4 linked regions of the Homo sapiens genome follow. The protein of the gene in region 3 purifies or fractionates together with the protein of the main gene of each other region. This does not show direct contact. Each region holds a gene or a part of one and is shown on either strand. Other genes may lie near its edges.

Region 1 (3,500 bases), on a different chromosome or scaffold from region 3:
TTAAACACATACACTTCAATCTATGACCTCTCCCAGCATCAATAATTAATCAGTATCTAAAAAATTCCTGCCACTCTTCCTTCTTCCTTGCATCCCAACACTGAAAAGACTTCTATGATGTTTTTATTTTTCTCCTTCTGCCCAAACTACCTAAGTGTATTAGAGATATCTGTGTGGCATCCACATTATTTCAAGCATATTTAGGCTGCTCTTAGGTGTTACTATTGTGTAAGTCACTGCTCGATTTCTTCTGTGAACTTCCCTTCCCATCAATAAAGGTTTGTCTTGGTAATGATGAACGGGCAGGAAGTTTACAGGCTTTACTTTATGTAGTCAATGTCAAATAGAGGGAATCTGAATGCCATCAAAAGTATCTTTTTAGTATCTCTTTAGTACAGAAAATAGAATTCTGGCTGGTGACAAAGACTCATGCCTGTAATCCCAGCATTTCAGGAGGCCAAGGCAAGAAGATCATTTAAGCCCAGAAGTTTGAGACCAGCCTGGGCAACATGGCAAATCCCTGTCTCTACAAAAAATACAAAAACCTAGCTGGGTGTGTGGTGCATGCCTGTAATACTAGCTACTCAGGAGGCTGAGGTGAGAGGATCACCTGAGTCCAGGAGGTCAAGGCTGCAGGATGCTGTGATTGCGCCATGAGACTCTAGCCTGGACGGCAGTGAGAGCCTGTCTCAAAAAAAAAAGAAAAAGAAAAAGAAAATTAGAATTCCTAATAAGAAAATTTGACCATCTGAGGGTCAAATTCAGGTCTTCTCCCAAAAATGCTTCCTAAAAAATTTTAAAAGATGTGTGACATTTTCACAAGTAACTGCCATACATTTTGGTTTTGAAAACAATTCCAGACATTTAACAGAACATTAACAGTTAAGCAATTTGGCCAGGCATGGTGGCTCACGCCTGTAATCCCAGCACTTTGGGAGGCCGAGGCTGTTGGATCACCTAAGGTCAGGAGTTTGAGACCAAACTGGCCAACATGGTGAAACCTTGTCTCTACTAAAAATACAAAAATTACCCAGGCGTGGTGGTGGTGCATGCCTGTAATCCCAGCTACTCAGGAGGCTGAGGCAGGAGAATTGATTGAACCCGGGAGGCGGAGGTTGTAGTGAGCTGAGATCACGCCACTGCACTCCAGCCCGGGTGACAGAGTGAGACTCGGTCTCAAAAACAAACAAACAAAAAAATCGTTAAGCAATTCGAATTTCTTGACTCTATTTAGGCAAGTAAATATATAAAATATCTCTACATTTGATATAAATCATAAATATAAAATATCTCGACATTTGATATAAGATCATAAATATGATATATTTAGGAATAAAAAGAGAAAACTTTCCAATGGCTTCCAAAGTCTGCAAGATTCTCCAAGGTCTGGTCTCTTCCTCCTTCAAACTCTTCTTCCACTCTCCCGCTCTCTCAAACTCAACTACACAAGCCTTCATTCTGTTCTTTAAACTTACCCGTGTCTTTACAATTGCTCTAATTTCAATGTCATTCAGATTTCAGCTCAAATGTCAATTCCTCCTAGAGATGTTTCCTGACCACCATATTTAATGTTGTTACTACCCTCTCCAACATTCCCAATATCCTGATGAACATCGATGCAAAAATCCTCAATAAAATACTGGCAAACCAAATGCAGCAGCACATCAGAAAGCTCATCCACCATGATCAAGTGGGCTTCATCCCTGGGATGCAAGGCTGGTTCAACATACGCAAATCAGTAAGTGTAATCCAGCATATAAACAGAACCAAAGACAAAAACCACATGATTATCTCAATAGATGCAGAAAAGGCCTTGGACAAAATTCAACAGCACTTCATGCTAAAAACTCTCAATAAATTAGGTACTGATGGGGCATATCTCAAAATAGTAAGAGCTATTTATGACAAACCCACAGCCAATATCATACTGAATGGACAAAAACCGGAAGCATTCCCTTTGAAAACTGGCACAAGACAGGGATGCCCTCTCTCACCACTCCTATTCAACATAGTGTTGGAAGTTCTGGCCAGGGAAATCAGGCAGGAGAAAGAAATAAAGGGTATTCAATTAGGAAAAGAGGAAGTCAAATTGTCCCTGTTTGCAGATGACGTGATTGTATATCTAGAAAACCCCATCGTCTCAGCCCAAAATCTCCTTAAGCTGATAAGCAACTTCAGCAAAGTCTCAGGATACAAAATCAATGTGCAAAAATCACAAGCATTCTTATACACCAACAACAGACGAACAGAGAGCCAAATCATGAGTGAACTCCCATTCACAATTGCTTCAATGAGAATAAAATACCTAGGAATCCAACTTACAAGGGATATGAAGGGCCTCTTCAAGGAGAACTACAAACGACTGCTCAACGAAATAAAAGAGGATACAAACAAATGGAAGAACATTCCATGCTCATGGATAGGAAGAATCAATATTGTGAAAATGGCCATACTGCCCAAGGTAATTTATAGATTCAATGCCATTCCCATCAGGAATGACTTTCTTCACAGAAATGACTTTCTTCACAGAATTGGAAAAAACTACTTTAAAGTTCATAAGGAACCAAAAAAGAGCCCACATTGCCAAGTCAATCCTAAGCCAAGAGAACAAAGCTGGAGGCATCACGCTACCTGACTTCAAACTATACTACAAGGCTACAGTAACCAAAACAGCATGGTACTGGTACCAAAACAGAGATATAGACCAATGGAACAGAACAGAGCCCTCAGAAATAATTCCATCATTCCCTATCACATTATCCTGTTTTATTTCTTCAGAGAATTTATCACTATTTCTCACTATCCTACTTGTTTCATTTATCATCTGCCTCCCTCACTAAAATATATGCTCTTTGAGACCAGAAACCTCTCTCTTGTTGGCCACTATATTCGTACTTGCCAAGAGAGTCAATAAATATGTTAGAAAAATGAAGAAACACATAAAACTTTAGTTAGCACCATTACATTGTAGATAGCAGAATTTTCCTGTTATTTTAATATCAGTATCTGGCAAATATAAATTATCAGGAGTGATCTATTATTATATACATATAATTCTTTAACTATATTTAGAGTTAATACTGTTTTTTCCCCTTCAGGTATAATAAAGACTCTGAAAAAACTCTAGGACTTAAATCAAAGGTTTTTTTTTCTCCCAGGAAAATATAATTTCATAACCACCTAACAACTATAGAGACTATTAAAAAGCTTAGGAGTTCATTTTCAGTTGTAGAGACTTGAAAACATCACTATGAAATAAAAACGCTGAAACCAATCTTTGAGATTATAACAAAAATTACAAAATGAAATTAATAACTTTTCTAATGCTGAGATTCTCCATAAAGTTATACAAACTCTTGTCTTTCCAAAGAAAATCTGAATCCATTAGTGTTTTATTTCCTGAGCAGAATATACAAGATAGATTAACTGAAAGAAAGGCAACAATGGTTTAAAAAAAAAAGTACTTAAATGATAAATAAATGATAGGCTCAAGTTAAAAT
Region 2 (3,500 bases), about 65 Mb from region 3:
TTCTATAAATTTCCATCTGAAAAAGGCTTATTCATTTTATATTTACTTTTACTTCCAATGTTATAGTATTGGACATAATTAAAACAAGAAGTCTCTCCTGAAAATGGAAGGGCATATAAAACAGCCCCTAAAACTTTTCTCCATGAAGATAGACACATGAAATAATAAACTATTTTTATTTATTTGAAGGAATATCGAGAATTATGGCTATGATCCTGTTCTTTGTGATAAAAATACTAAATACAGAAATTGCTTTACTGTTTTGTTAATTTCTTTATAAAACTGCCCTTTTTTTCTTAAGAGACTGAAATGATTCAATTCTTATGATAGTAAGAGCAGCAACTGTAGATTTTTCTATATTTTTCCCAATGTAGAATAATAATTATGACACAATATAGTTTCAATTCATGAAGCTTAAAATTCATATACAGTAATAAGAGAGGAATAATAAAATGTTTTACTTACCTTTCCAGAAACAATCTTTTCATAAATCTGAATTGGTTGGTCTGCAAAGAATGGGGGATAGCCAGCTGCCATTTCATAGATTAGCACTCCTAATGCCCACCAATCCACTGCCTTATTGTAGCCCTGAGATAAACCAACACCAATGTCAATTGTTACTTAAGTTACTCAAAAGAGAATGAAGTCAAAGATAATTTCAAAATGATCTGGAAGCATATAAAAATTTTTTTAAAGCAATTGCTGAGCAGCTATTCAGGACAGAATTTAAAAATGAACCAAATGTATCAGGTCAGATTTAAATTAAACAAAGGAGAGGATTTCCAGATACTGAAATTGGATATTAGGAAAGAGTATTAAATCTTCTTCCTAAAATTATTAAGAATATTATAGACAATGAAATTTTCTTTATTTCACTGGTATAATTTAGTTCTTGCTCAATAACAGGAAGGCAGTTAGACCACATTACTTCTTAAGGCCCACTCTAGGTCCATAATCTTATGAAACAGATTTTCCACAGCATGCCTAGAAAGATCAAAAGTTTTCAAAGAAAATAATAGAAACTGGACTACATAGTAAATAATGAAGTTGACTTCAAAATACTCTATATTTTTGGAGTTAGGAGGGTGAATGTGCTAGGGATAATCCCATCTGCTTCATAGGATTTTGTGAAAGCAAAAAGTTTAATGTAAAATTCAATTCATGTAAATATTTAGGTATACTTTACTTCTGCTATCTACTGTCTTGCTTCCTATATCTAAAAGATATGCAGGAAAAAAATGAATTCACAGAGTTTTGTGAGGACTGTATCAAATGAAAGGGAGTAACGTGTGTAAAAAGTGCTTTGCAAACCAAATGTAAAAATCACAGGTTATGTTTGTTTTTTTCATATTAAGCTTACTAAAATTAAAATTTGTAAGTATTCATAAGAAAATAAATAAGAATAACATCTTCATATTAACATGCTAATATAGTTTATTAACTATGGTCAGTATCAACTGACACAAGAGATTTTTTAACAACCCCAAAAACCTGTCATGAAGAGAAATAAGCTGAATTCTACCCAGATCTATTGCTCTGCCCTCAGAGGTACCCTCTACCATCACGACTCACCACATTCCACCCTTTTGTCAAAATTTTAGCTTTACAAACTACTTAGTTTTCAAAATTCTAGCAAAAATATAATACTTTAGCGCTATAGAGATTTTCTTTTTCTCTTTTTTTTCCTGATACTGTGTATATCTTTTTAAGGGAAGGAGTGGTATAACAGGAATAGCACTTTGTTTTTTAATAGAAATAGGCATTAACTCTCTTTAACTTTTTGATTCATATGTTTAAATTGTGTGCTAATGTTTATAGTAAATATGTCAGACACAAGTTAATACCCAAGGTATAGAAATCAAAACACATCAATAAGAAAAATGTTAAATTACAATAGATAAATGGGCCAAGGAAATGAACTAATAATTTACAGACACATAAAGAAATACCAAATGGCTATTAACCATTTGAAAAATAAATAAAAAACATGAGAATTAAAACAATGAGATACAATTTATTGCCTATGAAATCAGTAAATATTTTAAAAATGAGTATACCCAGTGATAGTGTTATGAAATAGGCACTATAATACACTAATGGTAGAAGTGTAAAATGGCATAATAACTTTGGAAAGCAATTTGGCAATATGTATCAAAAGCCTTAAAAATGTTCCTATTCCTTGACCCAGTAATTCTACTTCTGGGAATATATGCTAAGGAAATAATGTAAAATAAGGAAAAAACTTTTATGTATAAGGATGTTTATCATAGTTATTTATAATAATAAAAAAATCAAAAATAAAACCTGAACACTCAACGATAGAAGAGTGGCTACATATTTTATGGTACATTTACAAACAAGCCATTAGAATGATGTTTGCATGCTTGTTATTATAAAAGTGAAAAAAGTCAGAGACAAGACTATATATATTTACTATGATTTCAACTATGACAACCCAGAAATAAGTCCATACACCTACGACCACCCGATCTTTGACAAAGCTGACAAAACCAAGCAATGGGGAAAAGTTTCCCTACTCAATAAATGGTGCTGGGATAACTGGCTAGCCACATGCAAAAGACTGAAGATAGATCCCTTCCTTATACCATATACAAAAATCAACTCAAAATGGATTAAAGACCTAAATGCAAAACCCCGGAGTATAAAAACCTTGAAAGACAACCTAGGCAATGCCACCCTGGACATAAGAATGGACAAAGGTTTCATGACAAAGACACCAAAAGCAATTCCAACAAAAGCAAACACTGTCAAGTGGGATCTAATTAAACTGAAGAGATTCTGCACAGCAAAAGAAACTATCAACGGTAAACAGACAACCTACAGAATGGGAGAAAATATTTGCAAACCATATGCATCTGCCAAAGGTCTAATATCCAGCATCTATGAGGAACTTAAACAAATTTACAAGAAACAAACAACCCCATGAAAAGGTGGGCAAAGGACATGAACTGACACTTTCTAAAACAAGACATACATGCGGCCAACAAAGATATGAAAAAATGCTCAATATCACCGATCATTAGAGAAATGCAAGCAAGTCAAAACCACAATGAGATACCATTCCACACCAGTCAGAATGGCTATTACTAAAAAGTAAAAAAATGGAAGGGCATAGTGGCTCACCCCTGTAATCCCAGCACTTTGAGAGGCCAAGGAGGGTGCACCACTTGAGGTCGGGAGTTCAAGACCAGCCTGACCAATATGGTGAAACCCTGTCTCTACTAAAAAATACAAAAATTAACCAGGTGTTGTAGTGCATGCCGGTAGTCCCAGCTACTTGGGAGCCTGAAGCACGAGAATCGCTTGAACTCAGGAGGCAGAGGTTGTAGTGAACCGAGATCACGCCACTGCACTGCAGCCTGGGCGACAGAGCAAGACTCCATCTCCAGAAAATAAATAAATAAATAAATAAATAAACAAATAGTCAAAAAATAACAGATGCTGGCAAGGTTGCAGAGAAAAGTGAACACTTAGACACT
Region 3 (3,500 bases):
ACATTTATATAGAGAAAAACAAATTCAAATAAGCTATCAATGGAGATCTGTTAAGTACAATATAGCTGTGGTAAATGGACACCTTGTCTTGCTTGAAGGCTGTACTCCAGAAAAGAAACAAAGTCAAAATTCTTAAATTTTGAAACCAGATCATTAATTTTCTTGAATGTTACTTCCATTTTCCAAATTTTCACAGATACAGCAAGCAAATGCAATTAATGCTTGCATTTTATTAAATCAAATTGCAGGGGAATAGAAAACAAAACAAAACAGACTAATTTGCTTTCCTTTTTTAACCTTCAGTCTTATAGTTTGCCCTTAAACATTTCTAGTTCACTCTTTTCTTGAGTTATGTGTTCGGGGAAGTTGTATAAGGTTCATATATGATTCACCTGATGTTTACTCAGCTTTCTCATATGCTAGAAACCAGAACATTTCCACTGAAATGGGGAAGATAATTAGTAATGACTTTTTCAGCATTGAACGATGTGGTAGGCTAAAATAATGGCCTTATAAGAATGTCCACATTCCTAATCCCCAGATCCTGTGTATATGCCACTTTCCATAGCAAGAGAGGGCTTTGCAGATGTGACTAAAGATTTTGAGATGAGGAGATTATCCTGGATTATCTGGTTGGGTCCAATGTAATCATAAGGGTCCTAGTAAGAGGGACACTGGAGGGTCAGAATGATCAAAGGAGATGTGATGATAGAAGCAGAGGCCAGTGATGGCATTGCTGGAAGGGGCTATGAACCCAGAATGTGGGCAGTCTCTCGAAGCCATGAAGGGCAAGGAACAAATTCTCCTTTAGAGCCTCTAGAAGGAGCACAGTCCTGCTGATACCTTGGTTTTAACCTAGAAGACCAAATTTCAGACTTCTGACCTCCAGAACTTTAAGGCAATACATTTGTATTGTTTTAAGCCACTAAGTTTGTGGTGATTTGGCTGGGCGCAGTGGCTCACACCTGTAATCCCAGCACTTTGGGAGGCCAAGGCGGGTGGATCACTTGAGGTCAGGAGTTTGAGACCAGCCAGGCCAACATGGTGAAACCCCGTCTCTACTAAAAATACAAAAATTAGCTGAGTGTGGTGCCATGTGCCTGTAATCCCAGCTACTTGGGAGGCTGAGGCAGGAGAATCCCTTGAACCTGAGAGGCGGAGGTTGCAGTGAGCCAAGATTGCACCACTGCACGCTAGCCTGGGCAACAGAGTGAGACTCCATCTCAAAAAAAAAAAAAAAAGTTTGTGGTGATTTGTTACACCAGCAACAGGAAATTAATACAAACAGTAATCCTGAAGTACTGATAATCTTTAAAGCAGAAGGTGTAGGGAGTTGCTAGTCCAGACAGGTGGATGCTAAAAATTTAGAGCAGTAGAAGCTGTTTGCCTGGTTGACACTGGACCTGCCGGGTGAGAAAACCTCCCCTCATCATCAAGTTCTTCATCAGCTCCATGAGCTTATTCTTTTGACAACTCTCGCCCTGTTCACGGAAATAAATCTGAAAGCTGGTGACCAAATCAGCTTTTTGTAATGCCAGTATATTCATAGAAAATTTGCTATTCCAGAGCCAACCATGCTCTGTCCAAATGATTTAACCAGTGAGTTTGGCAACAGTCAGGTAACGGCCCCAGCGGGTAGGGGGAACCTTTCCATTGAGCTGTAGAGGGGCAGATGATGTGTAGCTGGGAGTAGAGCATATCTAACTTTGAGAACTAAAATACCAAGCACCTTGTCCTTTGTGGGTAAATTGAGCAAGTAGCTAGCTTCAGAAACAAGTCATAAACTGAGTCACCTACAAAACTCTACTAAAATAAAGTAAAAGCATAGATTTTGGAATGAAACAGTTCAAGGCTATATTTCTTTCTCGGCTGTGTGTGTCACTCTGGGAAAATTATTTAATCTTTCTGAAGCTCAATTTCCTTTTCTTAAAAATGAGTATAACATTTACTTCATAGGGTTGTAAGGATTAGGTGAATTAAGTATTCAAAGAGATTAGCACACAATTAAAGCTTAATAAATGTTATCAATTATGGTTAATTTTTATTCTTTCAATCCCCTATCCACTGTGTACCCAGAGCAGCCACTGCGTATCTCTGCCTTAGTGTCTCTCTATTAAAATTATAGATGATGACAATGTAAAGCCATTAAAGGCAGAGACCCAGTCTCATTCATTGCATTCATTGTTTTATTCTTAGCATCTAGCACAGCGTCTGACCTGTTTGGGGCTCTCAAAATTTATTTATTTATTTATTTATTTTTGAGACAGAGTCTCACTGTGTCACCCAGGCTGGAGTGCAGTGGTATAATCTCAGCTCACTGCAACATCCGCCTCCCGGGTTCAAGGGATTCTCCTGCCTCAGGCTCCTAAGTAGCTGGGACTACAGGTGCAGGCACCACACCCGGCTAATTTTTGTATTTTTAGTAGAGATGGGGTTTCAGCACGTTGGCCAGACTGGTCTCGAACTTCTGACCTCAAGTCATCCACCTGCCTTGGCCTCTCAAACTGTTGAGACTACAGGCGTGAGCCATTTCATCCGGCCCTCAAATTTTTAATAAGTGTTTATGAACTAATCTGATCTGTGAGTTAGGAAGGATCTGAGATGTCAGCCATGATCTGTGATTATAGGATTTTTCCAACTGTGACCCATTAGGTGGAGAAATAAATTCAGTGAATCAGAGCCAACATTTTATTTTTAAAGAAAAAGAATAGAATAGCAAATATCAGAGTGCAAAACACATAGTAAAGTTAAGTATTGTTACAAGAAACTTTGTTACATATGTAAGAGTACTTGGTGGCAATGTAAATATATTACTTATTGTGAGTAGTGGTTAAAAAATATGTGAACATTCTGAATGGTCCACCTTGCCAGCATTTGCTACTTTCTATCTTTTTAATTTCAGCCATTCTGATATGTATATAGCAGCATGGTGTTGTGGTTCTAATTTGCATTTCCCTGATAACTAGTGATGTGGAGCACCTTTTCACTATGTTCTTCCCTTTGGATACCCTCTTTTTTTTTTTTTTTTTTTTTTTTTTTTTTTTTTTTTTTTTTTTTTTTGAGATGTAGGCTCGCTCTGTCACCCAGGCTGGAGTGCAGTGGTGCGATCTCGGCTCACTGCAAGCTCCGCCTCCCAGGTTCAGGCCATTCTCCTGCCTCAGCCTCCCGAGTAGCTGGGACTACAGGTGCCTGCAACCACGCCGGGCTAATTTTTTGTATTTTTAGTAGAGACGGGGTTTCACCGTGTTAGCCAGGACTATCTCGATCTCCTGACCCCGTGATCCGCCCGCCTCGGCCTCCCAAAGTGCTGGGATTACAGGCGTGAGCCACCGCGCCTGGCCTGGATACCCGCTTTAGAAATCTCTTTTGTAATCTGTTTAAAAAAAAACAATCTGGCAGTATTTACTAAATCTGAACATGCATTTCCTATTACGCAGAAATCATACTTCTACTTATTTACTCAACAGAAATGTGTACATATGTTCATCAAAAGACCTGTA
Region 4 (4,220 bases), on a different chromosome or scaffold from region 3:
GTATGTGACTGAGTCAGTGCCAGTTTATCGATGGTATCTTATTACTTATTACTCTTACTCACTCTATTACACAACCTCCTCTTTTATCACAAGATTATCCCTAAATCCACACTTCAGTGATGTATCGTTGGGGTCTGGGACACTCCAGTGGGGGAGAGTTGTGGAAATGGAGCTAATGCACTCTGAGTAAATGCTCTCCACCTGAGTCGGCCAGGCTCATCTGCCTTGCTTTCTTCCATTTGGCCACTCAGAGACACAGACATCAGGATGCAAATGAAATGTGGGTAGGCCAGGTGAAATTACCTGTAAAAATTGATACGTCTTTTCTCCGAAGAGCTTGTTGGCGATCTTCAGCTCATATGCATCAGTGGATTTGTTGAATTCAGTCAGAAGCTTTTGAAACTGGTGATGAACATTTCCTGACCTATCAACCTTCAAACATCAAAAAGGGAGATCATTCAATTGCTGTATCAATGTAAATACTAAACCCATGCTAAGTCTGTTAGATCAGTCCCTAAATGCTGGTAGTCTCATTGAGGACCTTTGATGTTATTCCCTGATAATTGGTGTATTTCACCTCAAATACCCTTCAAAATCCACCTTATATTTGACTTCTTCCAGAAAATTCTTCTTGCTCTAACGTACTGCAATCTTTTCTCTTCTGAACTAAAGATGCAGCGCTGTCTACCAGTAGATTTTCTCCTTGTTGGTTTAAAGGGTTAGGTTTAGCTTCCCAGTTAAACTCTCAGCTCCTTATGGGCAAGGACCATATTTCACTTCTAACAGTCATCAAGGATACGAGTATGTTGAAGGTTGGATATTTTAAATAGATTATGCCAGGAAGCCCTGTTATACCTGTTGGTGCTATTATCTTGTAGGACACATTGACTGATCTGTGGCTCTTTCCTCATGATGGTCATTCTCTGCACGTAAGAAGAGTGTATGCCAGGTCCATGGCTAAGGACTTTACATGGGTAACTCTAAGTCTTTAGTTCAATTCAGATGAACACAAGAAAGCTCAGAGAATGGGGAAAAAAACCCTGTTTATAGAGACATAAATTAGAAGTGCCAAGTTTTGAACCTAAGCCTGTTTAAATCTAGAACTTTCTACCTTCCAGCAAAGCATTTTGCACTATTAAGGCTCTAAACCAATATATTCCATAGCAATCATTTTCCAAAATATACTTGGACTTGTGCTTATTCCTCTGAATCTCATTAATGACTCAATGAAAATTAAATTATTTTCACATTATTATGATTAGTATAATTATAGCTACTTTATAATAATAATAACATTTATTATGACTTTTATGGGCAAGGCACTGTTGTAAACATTTGCATGTATTTGCATGTATTGAGTCAGATTTTTTCTTACCCTTAGTTTTCTGGGATGAGGTCACTGGGACTCCGAGCAGTTGTGTCCTGCTCTTATTCATCATTTGTGAAGAGCAAAGCTGGAGTCTGAACCCAGCCTATCCTGATCCAGACCTATGCTCTGAGGTACAGTGCTGACTGTCTTTTAGTAACGCAGAAATGAGGAATAATAATTATGTGCCATGAAATGCCAACCCACTCTGTATGTCTCAATCTTTGTGTCCAAGATTTTCCCTAAAACTGGCCTTTTCTTAGTTTTTGTGAAGTTCCAGGTTTAAACTATGACCTGTTCAGGGATCTAAAGCTGAACCATAGTGCTCTGTGACTCACATGATATGTTGCAGCTTTTTCTGTGGTGTTCTCTGTGACTTGATCAAAGTGAAGAACCTGGAAGAGACATGAAGCGGGACAAGAAAACTTTACTCAAAAGATCTGTTTAAGTCAGTGGTCTCACAGTTATGGGAATTCCTGCACAGCCCCCTGTGCTACCCATCAGACCACCACATCTATTACCATCTGCGTGCTAGCCGACGGAACCAGAGAAAAACTGCAACAGGACAACGTAATGATGCTGATAGCTACCTTGCTAATTTGTTGTGCAGTGTTGTCTTTGGCTCCTAAGAGGACCATCCCTAATGCTGATGTGATGCTGATAGGGGAATAGAAGATGTTGTTCTCTTTTGATTTTCTGAACTGTTGGAACAGATCGAACATGAACTTGGTGTTGGCTTCACTGAGTGAATTCATGGTGAACTCGATGTGATCTGGAACTCCTGGAAAAGCATCAGATTCCTGTCAGAATGACTTTAATAAATGGAATGGTATTTTGTAGTACAATTTTCTTAAAGAAATGATATATCTGGGTTGTGAGATTTTGACATTTAAAGTTTTTCTCTTATTTTTAACGCTTCAATCTTTCTACAATGTGCATATATTAAATATATTAATGTCCTAATTAGAAGGCTTACAAAACTACGTTTTTAAAGACTATTGTAAATAAGTAATCGACCCTCTTTATCTTTCTTTCATTGCTGGTTACACTAGAGCTAGGTAGGATGGCTTTACAATGAATGCTAACAGGAGACCTCTGTGGATCACATCCAACCAGCTGTTAAGATGCGTCCCTGACATCTCCTTCAAGACTCTCTGGCTGCAAGGCACTCTCCCTCTGTGTTCCTAAAAGTGCCTTGGTTTACTTGGAACTAAGCAATTTAGATAAAGGACAAATCAGATGAAATAGGTATTTTAATTTTGCTCTGGCAGAATAAGTAAAATATAATCAGACAGAATGCAGGAGATGCATGATATAGAACACAGTATCATTATTATTCTCAAAAATAATTCATGTTATTAAGCTGGAGAGGCTTGAAGCTCTTACCTGTGTTCCTAGAGGAAGCAGAGGTGGGCAGAGAGGCTGTGTGTGTCTGTGGAATGAAGGGTGAGATCCTAAATTTATGCCTCTCCTCTTGCTGCCTTTCCCTCTGTGGTTAGTATTTGAAGTTACTCAACTTCAGATTTCACAAGCGGGCTAACACTCACCTTTATGAATATGAAAATTTATGACAAAGGACAGGATTACAGTTCTACCATTGTACCTCCTTTTTAATCTATAGGGAAAAAATAAGAATGCAAGTCAGCAGTCACCGGCTCATGTGAAATACATGTAGGTGCCTTTCTAATGCCAATGAGAATAAGTTTAGAATTCCAATTTCCTCTCATTTGTTTCAACTCCATCCCTTTGTATTCTACTCCAGCTGTAAAACAAAAACAAAAACAAACAAACAAAAACCCCACCATTCTTTTCTTGGATTTTGCATTGTCTTTTAGGCATACTTCGAATACCAAAGAACTAAAAAGCTTACATTTCCTGTTTTTCAGTTCTGAAAGTTTTTGTCATCCTATGAATTTCCTTAGTAATTTTTCTGTATAACAAGGAATGTAGTGCTAATTCTAAGTCCAAAGAGATAGTGAAGAAGTGTACTTCAGTATCTTATAGCATACTATGGAGAATAGGATTCTATTGCCTTCTCCTGAGTGCTCAGCTTTGGCAGTGATCCTACCAGTCACTTCCTGTGCCCCTTACAACCATCCCAGATGGTTTTCTGTTGCATAGGCTCAGTGAGAAAGTTATCTGCCTTGCTGAGTGATATGGTTTGGCTGTGTTCCCACCCAAATCTCAACTTGAATTGTATCTACCAGAATTTCCACATGTTATTGGAGGGACCCAGGTAGAGGTAATTGAATCATGGGGGCCGGTCTTTCTTGTGCTATTCTCATGATAGTTAATAAGCCTCAGGAGATCCGATGGGTTTATCAGGGGTTTCTTCTTTTGCTTCTTCCTCATCTTCTCTTGCAGCCACCATGTAAGAATAACTTTTGCCTCCTACTGTGATTCTGAGGCCTCCCCAATCACGTGGAACTCTAAGCCCAATTAAACCTCTTTTTCTTGCCAGTCTCAGGTATGTTTTTATCAGCAGCATGAAAACAGACTAACACATTGAGTTAACAGGCTGACACTGAGAAGAGCAATTGAAACAGACGGGCCATTTTAAATGGCAGCTTTCTAATTTTACATTTAAAAATGAAGCCGAAAAATAAATTGCTTGACCTGTCAGGATCACAACATTTCTCAATGGTCCTTCTGTTTAGCACCTGGCTTCAGACTCATTCCAGTGTTTCCCCTGGAATATCTTGTAATCTGAAGAATGTCTGTGGCCAGGGAGAGGGGTTGTTGTCCAAGGCCATTTAATCCAATATCTCCCTGACAACCAGAGTGGGGGGCTGTTTGTTTTGTGGACCCCCTTTTTATTAACATATAATTTATATACCATAAATTCAACTGTACA

Evidence for each region.
Region 1: the proteins of PDE4DIP (region 3) and AKAP9 purify together in Homo sapiens (affinity purification with mass spectrometry; 3 studies listed by BioGRID and IntAct, with this or other methods). This does not show direct contact.
Region 2: the proteins of PDE4DIP (region 3) and PRKACB purify together in Homo sapiens (affinity purification with mass spectrometry; 6 studies listed by BioGRID and IntAct, with this or other methods). This does not show direct contact.
Region 4: the proteins of PDE4DIP (region 3) and SERPINB4 purify together in Homo sapiens (affinity purification with mass spectrometry; 2 studies listed by BioGRID and IntAct, with this or other methods). This does not show direct contact.

The regions. Positions count from the first base shown.
Region 1 is NC_000007.14:92,003,362-92,006,861, reverse strand, and holds part of AKAP9 (A-kinase anchor protein 9), read right to left. Parts: intron 1-3,500. UniProt on the Homo sapiens protein: Scaffolding protein that assembles several protein kinases and phosphatases on the centrosome and Golgi apparatus. Required to maintain the integrity of the Golgi apparatus. Required for microtubule nucleation at the cis-side of the Golgi apparatus.
Region 2 is NC_000001.11:84,199,771-84,203,270, reverse strand, and holds part of PRKACB (cAMP-dependent protein kinase catalytic subunit beta), read right to left. Parts: intron 589-3,500; coding exon 466-588; intron 1-465. UniProt on the Homo sapiens protein: Mediates cAMP-dependent signaling triggered by receptor binding to GPCRs.
Region 3 is NC_000001.11:148,847,428-148,850,927, reverse strand, and holds part of PDE4DIP (myomegalin), read right to left. Parts: intron 1-3,500. UniProt on the Homo sapiens protein: Functions as an anchor sequestering components of the cAMP-dependent pathway to Golgi and/or centrosomes.
Region 4 is NC_000018.10:63,641,457-63,645,676, forward strand, and holds the start of SERPINB4 (serpin B4), read right to left. Parts: upstream 2,801-4,220; 5' UTR 2,753-2,800; intron 2,167-2,752; exon of another isoform or gene 2,148-2,166; 5' UTR 2,122-2,147; coding exon 1,957-2,121; intron 1,762-1,956; coding exon 1,705-1,761; intron 433-1,704; coding exon 304-432; intron 1-303. UniProt on the Homo sapiens protein: May act as a protease inhibitor to modulate the host immune response against tumor cells.